2 linked regions of the Homo sapiens genome follow. The protein of the gene in region 2 binds, or shares a complex with, the protein of the main gene of each other region. Each region holds a gene or a part of one and is shown on either strand. Other genes may lie near its edges.

Region 1 (5,116 bases), on a different chromosome or scaffold from region 2:
AATGCAAGGCCAGGAGGCAGTAAGTAATGAAGGTTGGGGACAGGCAACATCTTTGGGATTTTAGTGGCACCATCTGAGAACAATCTTTGCTGTAAGCTTCACTGTCACTAATTTGCCACTCCATCTTGATTGGTTTCCTTCATGTGAGAAGTCCTGAGTTTTCCTAACCTAGAGCTTCCTCACTGGGGCTCCATCGCACCATGTCATGATTTGGTTATAGCTGGGTAGAGATATCGATCCCTTTAGCCCTCTGGCTGGTCAAATAGGGCTGGAAACCTCCCCTCTAGGACACCACTAGCCATGAGAATTCTCAGGTTTTATCCCAGTCTTAGATCAGTGTCACGTTTACTACCTAATGTGAAAGAGACTGGGAAACATTGTGTCCTTTGTAGTTAAGAATGTTAGTGTTTCTGGGCACTGTGCTAATTGATTCCATTTAATTCTGTTTTTTGTTGTTTTTTTTTTTGAGATGGAGTCTCACTCTGTCGCCCAGGCTGGAATGTAGTGGTGCAAGCTTGGCTCACTGCAACCTCCGCCTCCTGGGTTCAACCAATTGTCTTTCCTCAGCCTCCCGATTAGCTGGGATTACAGGCGCATGCCACCACGCCCAGCTAATTTTTGTATTTTTAGTAGAGATGAGGTTTCACTATGTTGGCCAGGTTGGCCTCGAACTCCTGACTTCAGGTGATCCGCCTGCCGTGGCCTCCCAAAGTGCTGGGATTACAGGCATGAGCCACCGCACCTGGCCTTCATTCCATTTAATTCTTGCAGCTGTCCAGCCTTGTGGTACTGTTTTCATTTTACACACGTGGAAGCAGGCTTAGAGAGATGAAATGGTGAGTCTAGATCATATGGCTCGTAGCCCATGCTTTTCACATATGCTAAGCCATAGTGCCTCTCTCTAGCCCTCTTTTTCTTAAGATAGCCTGTTATATTTCTAGAATATCTTAGGATACTCTGCAGACTGAAATTTGGGGATAGGGCTTTTGGTCAGCTTATACCATATTTGTATTTTTTCCCAAACCTTATTGGAGCTGGGTTTTTTTTTTCCCCTCAGGTATTGGCCATGTCAAGCCGCTCATGGTTGAGCTATTCTTACCAATCTCGCTTCCATCTCACCCCACTGTCTTACGAGACACTGGAATTTGCATCGGGTTTTGCCTCGGAACAGTGTCCCGAGGGCATTGTGGCCATCTCCACCAACACCCTACGGTGAGTGAGTCTCATGTTTGAAGCTCAGCAGGAAGCCTTTCTGCCAAGGGCTCAGACTGGTTCTGCCAGAGTGTTGGAGGAGGCTGTGAAGAGGTGGCAGAGAGCCGACTTCACCATGAAGCTTGTGTGTTGCAATTGAAACCTTCATTTGGCTCAGCATTTTAGTACCTGAGAGCCAAGTTTCGGTGTTTTAGCTTCTGTTAAGATTTTCAAGGCCAAGCTTTAATACAGTCCAATCTTCCTGAGATTTCAGATTTTTGTTTTCTAGCAAAAGGGTATTGCCATTGGATTAGTTTTAGAGCAAGTATTGGATCACTGCATTGATAACCTTTCTTACTCTGTCTTGTCATTTGCGGTATTAAATCTTAAATGTTAACCTATCTATAAGTTATTTAGACCTTTTTCAAGTTGACAAAACTGTTCTTCCTGGTAATATTGATGTGAAGTTTGAGCACTGTATGTAATATTCTTTGCAAGATGGAAAAGAACCTAAAATAATTCAGTCAGTTTGGCTTCCTCAGGTTTTGGGGGGCTTTTAAAATTAAGCCACCAAAGTTGTTCACATCCTGGTTATAACTATTGGCTGTTCATAATGAAACTATGGCCTCTTGATAGATTAATCACTATTGCTTATCAAATGAGCTCCCAAAATTTCTTTGCAACAACTTTCAGGGTCTTTTCATGGTCATTGTCCTTTTTCTTTCCGTCATCTTTGTATTTATCTTCTGCTCCAGCAGAATTGATCTCCCTGCACTGCTCTACATCACTTAATATTTTTTTAATCTCTACCTGTGCTAGAATGCTTCACCCACATACATACCTGCCTGTCAGTGTTCCCCTTGTCTTTTAAGCCAGCCTTGTTGTAGCCTCATCTGTGGCCCCTACCTCCTGAATTGCTATAGATTTAGACAATCGCTACAGATTTTTAGGCTTTCCTAGCAGCAGAACTTACTTCCCCCCAAAACTAAATCAGGGAAGGTGACTTATGAGACATAAAAGCAGAGTTCTTGGCAGGCAGTTTATTTTTTTATTTAATTATTTTTATTTTTAAGTTTTTTTTTTGAGACAAGGTCTTACTCTGTTGTACAGGTTGGAGTGCAGTGGTGTGATCATGGCTCACTGCAGCCCCAACTTCCTGGGCTCAAGCTATTTCTGCCTCAACCTCCCAAGTACCTGGTGGGACTGTAGGCGCATGCCATCATGCCTGGCTAATTTTTGTGTTCTATTTTATAGAGACAGGATTTCACCTTGGTGCCCAGGCTGGTCTTGAGCTCCTGGGCTCAAGAGATTCTCCCACCTCAGCCTCCCAAGTAGCTGGGACTACAGGCGTGCGCCACCATACATGGCTTTTTTTTTGGTATTTTCAACAGAGTTGGTGTTTCACCATGTTACCCAGGCTTGTCTTGAACTCCTAGCCTTAGGTGATCTGCCTGCTTTGGCCTCCCAAAGTGCTGAGATTACAGGCGTGAGCCACCACACGCAGCCCCTATCTTTTTTAATGTAGAGAATAAACTACAAATAAAACTCCATCATTAGAGATCGGGTAACTATACTTTTCAGAGTACCTGGGTTCTGCTCATTTTGCACATAGTTTGGCTTATGTGTACATCTCTGTCCCATTTGACAGAAATTTGTAGGTCCCTTATTTGCTGTCTCTTGCATTGTCATAGTTTTCCTGAACTGAGGTGATTTTTGTTCACAAAGGTATCCACTTTATTTTATGAAGCACAGTCACTACAAATACCATATATGTTTAGGTAATTGCAGTGTTTCACAACAAATTTGGGATTGGGCTCTTTATTATCATTGGAGTGATTAAAAAAAAACTTTTGACAATCGTTTGTGTTTCATTGGTAGGAACTAGAACTGCTGTGAATTGTGGTAGGGTGTTGCCAAATGGGAAGGCCCTTCCTGGATCTCTGTGTCTGCATCGCAGAGTTTTCTAGAGTAGGAGGCTGTTGTTTAATGTTGCCTAATGCCAACGTTAGAGCTCCAGGGATTGACGTGTTTGCTGACTGCTCAAAGTCTATTTCAACACCAGTTTCTGGGTCCGAGTGAGTATTAAATAACTGCCTTGCTTTTTTGTCATAGGATTTTGGCATTAGAGAAGCTCGGTGCTGTCTTCAATCAAGTAGCCTTCCCACTGCAGTACACACCCAGGAAATTTGTCATCCACCCTGAGAGTAACAACCTTATTATCATTGAAACGGACCACAATGCCTACACTGAGGCCACGAAAGCTCAGAGAAAGCAGCAGATGGCAGAGGTAATGAGACTAACGTTCAGGGGTTCTATTAAAAGATGTGTGAAATTATGTTGAAAAGTTTAAACTGCCCGGCACTTTGGGAGGCTGAGGTGGGAGGATTGCTTGAGGCCACTAGTTCGAGACCAGCCTGGGCAACATAGCAAAACTGCACCTCTATTAAAAATTTTAAAAGATAGCCTGGTGTGTTGGTGCACTCCTGTAGTCCCAGCTACTTGGGAGGCTGAGGCAGGAGGATCACTTGAGCCCAGGAGTTCAAGACTGCAGTGAGCCATGATCATGCCACTGCATACCAGTGGCACTCTGGACACGAGACTCTATCAAAAGTTTAAACTCCTGTAATTGTTAGTATATTCTTTGTTTTTAAAGATCTAGGCTTTTTTCAGCTTTTTTAAGCAGAGGCCTTTGCCCCAAAGTACTTCATTTTAGAGCCTTTCTTGTAACCCAGGACTATACTCTGACCTCCATTTATTCACAATTAAGTTCCCTCTCTGAAACAGAATTCTCCCGTCCTTGAGCTTCCAAAATAGACTGTATTTCCTTTATTTGGGCCCAAAAGAGACAGCTTTCATGTTCTCCACAACACCAGCTCTTTCTAGAACTCATTGCCTAGCAGAAACCAAATAGCTACAACCACGTAGAACTGTATCCATCCTTAAAGAGTGGAGACAGAGTAGTTTTAGTAAGGGAAATCAGATGGGTTGGATAGAAAAGTGGAGTTTCCGTTGTCATTTTTCTCAAGCCACTAGTCCAATATTTGTCACAGCTATTGTTATTTTTGGTGTTTTCTACTAATATGTAACCAGCAATGTCTGGATTTCCCTTTCTGATCTTCTGTCTTCCCTAGTCTGTACACCTCTCCCTTTAATAGTCATGTCGGGAAATCCTGGCTGGGATGGCTGACTTTGCTGCTTTATGTATTGAGAACCCCCTGGAGTGTTCTTGCTACCTATCCTCTTCTCAGCCAGCCCCTACCTCTGAGCACGCCAACTCAGTTACTCGTTTTTTTGGGTTTAGGAAATGGTGGAAGCAGCAGGGGAGGATGAGCGGGAGCTGGCCGCAGAGATGGCAGCAGCATTCCTCAATGAAAACCTCCCTGAATCCATCTTTGGAGCTCCCAAGGCTGGCAATGGGCAGTGGGCCTCTGTGATCCGAGTGATGAATCCCATTCAAGGGAACACACTGGACCTTGTCCAGCTGGAACAGAATGAGGCAGCTTTTAGGTAAGCAGCCCAGGACAGTCCAGGGTTTGGCAGGCTGGAACAGGAGCTCTCTGAGTTTTGACTAAGGCCTTACTCTTGCTTCTTATTCTGTGTGTAGTGTGGCTGTGTGCAGGTTTTCCAACACTGGTGAAGACTGGTATGTGCTGGTGGGTGTGGCCAAGGACCTGATACTAAACCCCCGATCTGTGGCAGGGGGCTTCGTCTATACTTACAAGCTTGTGAACAATGGGGAAAAACTGGAGTTTTTGCACAAGGTAGGAATCTGCCAGTGGTTCTCCTAGATTTTAAGTCCCATTGAATTCTCTCACTTTTGCTTATGTTATGGATCAGGTCTTTTGGGGACCAGCTCCTTGATTCCAATCTCTCTCTTACCAGCACATGGAAAATGCTGGGGCCTTCTAGCTGCAGTGATGTTCTT
Region 2 (5,788 bases):
TGAGCCCAGGAATTCAAGACCAGCCTGGGTAACACAGTGAGACCCTGTCTCAATTAAAAAAACCAAAACAAACAAAAATCATACTATGAGCACTACAGCTACTACTCAATATAGTTTTTAAATTTTTTATTGCCATTGTACTTGTTATCAATTCTGATTTACTATTAATATTTTAAAAGGGATTATTTGATCTGTCAGAAGAAGAAATGAAGGAAAGGACTACTGAGGAGATTTCTAGGAGAGAAATTAGGTGGAGCTAGAATAGAGCCTAGGAGTTGTTAATGGTGAAGAAGAGGGGTTTGAGGTTCCAGACTAGCTGCAAAGGCTGTAGTTGTTATGGATGCCTGATTGTACACCTTCTTCCAAGACTATAACCTATAGGAAGAAGGGTCCTACAAGAGCTTGTCACCCTTTTGCCCCCCACTGCTTCTCTGTCCAGTTAGGTTTTCTGGCAGGAGAGCAACACAGATAGCAATGAGTGACACTTCTCTGAGCTGCTTAGTAAACCCACTGTTGTCCATTCCTGTCTGTATTAGTTATCTATTGTTATGTAAATTAACAAATTAACCTAAAGCTTAGCAGCATAAACTACACCACTCACAGTTTCTTTGGGTAAGGAATCTGGGAGTGGCTTACCTAGGTGGTTCTGGCTCAGGGTCTTCATGAAGCTGCAATCAAGGAGTTGGCAAGGTAGGTCTGCATTCATATGAATCTTAAGTGGGGCTGGAAGATCTGCTTCCAAGCTCTCTCACATGCCTGTGGTTTGGAAGCCTAAGTTCTTTGCCCCATAGACCTTTCTTTTTTCTTTTTCTTTTTTCTTTTCTTTTTTTTTTTTTTTCTGAGACAGAGTTTCACTCTTCTTGCCCAGGATGAAATGCAATGGTATGATCTCGGCTCACCACAGCCTCGCCTCCTGGGTTCAAGCGATTCTCCTGCCTCAGCCTCCCAAGTAGCTGGGATTACAGGCATGCACCACCTGATTTTTTTGTATTTTTAGTAGAGACGGGGTTTCTCCGTGTTGGTCAGGCTAGTCTCGAACTCCCGACCTCAGGTGATCCGCCCGCCTCGGCCTCCCAAAGTGCTGGGATTACAGGCGTGAGCCACCATGCCCGGCCACCCCATAGACCTTTCTATAAGACTGCTCACAATAAAGCAACTGGCTTCCCCAGAGCAAGTAACCCAAACAAAGACAGAAGGCATGGTTTTTAAAATAACCTAATTTTGGAAGATACTACTTTTGACATATTCTATTGGCCAAACAGACCAACTCTGGTACAAATTGGGAAGAGACTACACAGAGTAGGAATACCAAGAGGGTGGGGCTCATCCTGGGGCTGTCTTGGAAGATGACTGCTATACTCTCTCGAAAGCTAAGGCTTTATAGAAATGAAGGCTTAACACTTCTAAAAAGAAGTTTACCTAAAAATTTGAGTTTCTTGGTTGAAAATGATAAGATCCTTAAAACCATATTTGACTCAGGTGCTGTTTCTTCCTGTTAGATATTACTGCAATGTCTGTGACTGTGTGGTGAAGGACTCCATCAACTTTCTGGATCACATTAATGGAAAGAAACGTAAGGCTTGGAGGTAGCTTGTGACTAGGGCTGGAATTGGGTTTTGGAGGTGGGGTGGAATGGAAGGGTAGCTTTTTTTTTCTTCTTTTTACTCATCAAAAGATGGCTGGAGTAAGAAGGGTAGTTTCTACTGGGCTCTTTTTTGATGCCCCTATTAGAACTCTCCAGTTGTTTCAGCACAGGCCGTCTTTTACTTCATTATGTAATATTTCTGGAGGCCGTGAGGTAAGAGGCCTCATTCTGGAGGCCATGAGGCTTTCAACAGCACCCAAACCATGTGCTGCTCCTGGACCCAGCTGGCCAAGGGAGTTTCTTTTAGCCATAATTATTTTTGCTGTGTGTTTTATGAGATGTCAGAGAAGTCAGGAAAATAATTTTTGAGGGGCTGAGGATGTTGTAATGAACTTGCCTTCTTCACTGTTGACCCTATGCAGATCAGAGAAACCTGGGCATGTCTATGCGTGTGGAACGTTCCACCCTGGATCAGGTGAAGAAACGTTTTGAGGTCAACAAGAAGAAGATGGAAGAGAAGCAGAAGGATTATGATTTTGAGGAAAGGATGAAGGAGCTCAGAGAAGAGGTAAGGGTCTCCTATCCTTCCCCTCTCCCCCAGATTTGAGTTTTATGTTATGAATCATGGGAGACCCTGTCCTCATCCCACTCCTACTCCCACCCCCAGAGTTGTATCTCCTGAGTTCTGTATATTAGCGGAAACATTTGTTGCCTTTGTTTAGGATTCTCATGATCTGAAGGAAATGGCTCTGAAACTACTTTTTTCTCCTAGACTCTCTGGGCCTTATTTTTTTTTTTGTAATTTAAAAAAAAATTTTTTTTTTTTTTGGTCATACAGATATTTCTCAACTTCTGATGGGGTTACCTACTGATAAACCTATCATCAAGTTAAAAATATCATAAGTCAAAAATACATAATACACCTAACCTACTGTAGTTTAGCCTAGCCTACCTTAATGTGCTCAGAACACATTAGCCTACAATTGACCCAAATTATCTAACACAAAGCCTATTCTATAATAAAGTATTCATCTCATTAATTTATTGAATACTGTACTGAATGTGAAAAACAATGGTTGTATGGATACTTGAAGTACAGTTTCAAATGCATGTCAGTTTTTCACCATTATAAAATTGAAAAATCTTGTCAGCATCATAAGTTGAGGACTGTCTCATCTGTATTCTTTGATTTAATTTTTTTAAAAGACTAAACTTTTTTTAGAGGAGTTTAGGTTTGCAACAAAATTGAGAGGGAGTTATAAAGATTTCCCATATACCCACTGTCCCCCACAACATGCATAGCCTCCCCCATAATTTTTTTTTTTTTTTAACTGCAAGAGGAATTAACTAAATGTACCTAGTCCTAAAGAGACCCATGAAATCAGGCTGACTGGGTCAAAATTCTGTTTCTTCCACTTACTGGCTGTGAATCTTGGGCAAGTTATATAACCTCTTTGTGCCTCAATATCCCCATATTAGAGATCTTAATATACATGAAGTACTCAGAGCAATTTCTGGCATGTACTGCATGCCCCAGAATGTTAGTTGTTGTTACAAACAACATTTGGCTGAGGAGTCTAAACTGATTCTGAGTGATTTTTCCCTCCAGGAGGAAAAGGCCAAAGCGTACAAGAAAGAGAAACAGAAGGAGAAGAAAAGGAGGGCTGAGGAGGACTTGACATTTGAGGAGGACGATGAGATGGCAGCTGTGATGGGCTTCTCTGGCTTTGGTTCCACCAAGAAGAGTTACTGAGGCTTTCTGTGCTTGGCCTGACTTTGGCCTATGCTGGACCTAACTTTGCGTGTGTGTGTGTGTAGTAGGGGGTCATTTCTTTTTGGGTAATGGGAAAGTTCTTAAGAGTGTCAATGGGGAGGGATAGAGGGTGGGGGCTCATGGTTTCCCTCTACTTTGGGAGAGGGCACAGATTGCAGAGGTAATGCTGTGGCATATTGCTTCTGCCTCAGTGTATCACTGGAGTCACAGGACCCTGCCCACCTGAGTTCCCAATAAAGAAAAACCTCCCCTTCTGAGGCTGCTTTCCCAAAACTCCCCCTGCATCTTTATCTCTTCATCTATCCCACCTCTTGTCTGAACATCCCACCTTTATCCTGTGTTCTGCCTTTGTTTTAATTTTAACTCATGTTCATCCTGCAACAGAAGCATTCTCTAGGTCCCAGTTTCCAGTTGATTGCATATCCTTGATCAGCCCTTTTTCCCATCCTGCCCTATGGTTCTCTAGCCACCTGTGCATGCATGTGTATTTCTGCCTGGTTCTATGGTGTGTGGATGTGTGTGCATGAATCTGTCATATAGAGGGGGTCCGAGCTGGAATCCTAGAGCATTGCTGCCCTGGGGCCTGATGTTCTTGGCTTCCTCAGAGCATGTAACAGGAAATTAAATGGGATGAGTGTTTGGTGTGGTTTGTGTCTGATGAGTTTTTTAACATTCAGGTGTAGATTGTTTCAGCTTCTCATGTTTCATTTTCCTGAAGATTTATGTTTTTGTCTACCTTGTGAGCAGGCTTTTGGAAGAACCTGTTTGATGCAAAAAAGAAAATGAAAAACAAAACAAAAAATCCCCAAAACCTTATTATGGGAGCCCGTCGGTCTTAGAAGCTGTTTGACATGTATAATAAATGGCATTGACTGGGCCTGTTTTACATTTGGTGAGAACATTCCATAATCTTCCCTGTGAATATTTGTTTTTCCTTCTCATGCTGAGGATTTCCATATAGAGTATTTTATTCTTCCATTTTAAATCTTATTTTTGCCTAGGTTTTTTTTTAGCATGAGTTATGTTTTCGTCTGATAAGGGATCTATGTCCAGAGAAGTCTGAACCAAAACGATTCCTATCATTTCAGACTCCTTTGATCTTTTGTTTTTGGAACAGCAGAGCTCAGGATTGAACATAATGTTTTTTCTTTTTTTTTTTTCTTTTTTTTGAGACAGTCTTGCTCTATCGCCCAGTCTGGAGTGCAGTGGCGTAATCTTGGCTCACTGCAACCTCCGCCTCCTGGCTTCAAGTGGCTAATATTGTATTTTTAGTAGAGATGGGGTTTCACCATGTTGGCTAGGCTGGTCTCAAACCCCTGACCTCAGGTGATCCACCTGCCTCGGCCTCCCAAAGTGCTGGGATTACAGGCGTGAGCCACTGCACCTGGCCCTTAGTGTTTTTCTTACTGTCTGCTAGACACAGAATTACTTAATTTTGGCACTGTTGAGATTTTGGGCCAGATTATCATTTGTTGTAGAAACCAATGCTGGCATTGTAGGATGTTTATTATTTTGATTTTGATTTAGGATTAACTTCATCCCTGGACTCTACCTGCTAGATGCCAGTAGCACCCTCTTCCACAATTGTGACAACTAAAAATGTCTATGCCTCTGAGAAAGGCAAAATCCCTCCCTACCCACATTGAAGACCACTAAGAAGAAGCTAGCTGTCTTCCCTACCTTGGTCTGATTTGAGAATTAGATGGCACAGACTGGCAAACTCAAAACAGAAACTCACAAAACTTTGATATCCACTGGATCAAGTACTATGCCAAGTCAAGGGGATGCAGAAGAAAAAAATAGCCATACATACACGAAGAACTACAGTCACATTAACTTCAAGCAGATGAAGCCTGTAACTTGCTGGTTCTATACCCTGAAAAAATGGACCTGTAAATGAATCTGTTTGGGTTAACAAGGCTGCCACCATATAGCTGGTTTTCATTCTCTGCCCCATCAAGCTCCTCAACTTTCTGTATTATCTGAACCACAAAGCACCATACACCTCCCTTTGGACTTTTGTACAAAATTCCCTTACTGTAAGACATGCCCTTTGTCTAATTTCTGATGCTGAATCTTGCCACTGGGAACACTGAATGTATCTTCACCTATGGGCTGAAGGCCTGGCTCAGTTTTAGATACAGTAAGTACTGGGCAACTGGGGGCAGATTGGTGCGTGCTTTCCTTGGCAGGATTATGTGCACTTCAGGTCCCTTGGGTGACAGTCTTCTTGTTGACTAGGTATTTTGTTACCCCTTTCAAGGCAGGCTGGAGGTTTGTGAGTTCCTTCCATGGTTCAGTTTTTTTTTTTTTTTTTTTTTTTTTTTGAGAGTGTCACTGTCACTCAGGTTAGAGTACGGTGGCACGATCTCAGCTCACTGCAACCTCCACCTCCCAGGTTCAAGTGATTCTCCTGCCTCAGCGTCCTG

The links. Proteins that work in one complex are often made in the same cells at the same time.
Region 1: ZMAT2 (region 2) and SF3B3 share a complex: the UniProt entries of both Homo sapiens proteins name them as parts of the spliceosome B complex.

Annotation. Positions count from the first base shown.
Region 1 is NC_000016.10:70,560,573-70,565,688, forward strand, and holds part of SF3B3 (splicing factor 3B subunit 3), read left to right. Parts: coding exon 1-19; intron 20-1,057; coding exon 1,058-1,212; intron 1,213-3,303; coding exon 3,304-3,478; intron 3,479-4,492; coding exon 4,493-4,698; intron 4,699-4,795; coding exon 4,796-4,952; intron 4,953-5,116. UniProt on the Homo sapiens protein: Component of the 17S U2 SnRNP complex of the spliceosome, a large ribonucleoprotein complex that removes introns from transcribed pre-mRNAs.
Region 2 is NC_000005.10:140,702,419-140,708,206, forward strand, and holds the end of ZMAT2 (zinc finger matrin-type protein 2), read left to right. Parts: intron 1-1,499; coding exon 1,500-1,573; intron 1,574-2,007; coding exon 2,008-2,153; intron 2,154-3,194; coding exon 3,195-3,338; 3' UTR 3,339-4,268; downstream 4,269-5,788. UniProt on the Homo sapiens protein: Involved in pre-mRNA splicing as a component of the spliceosome.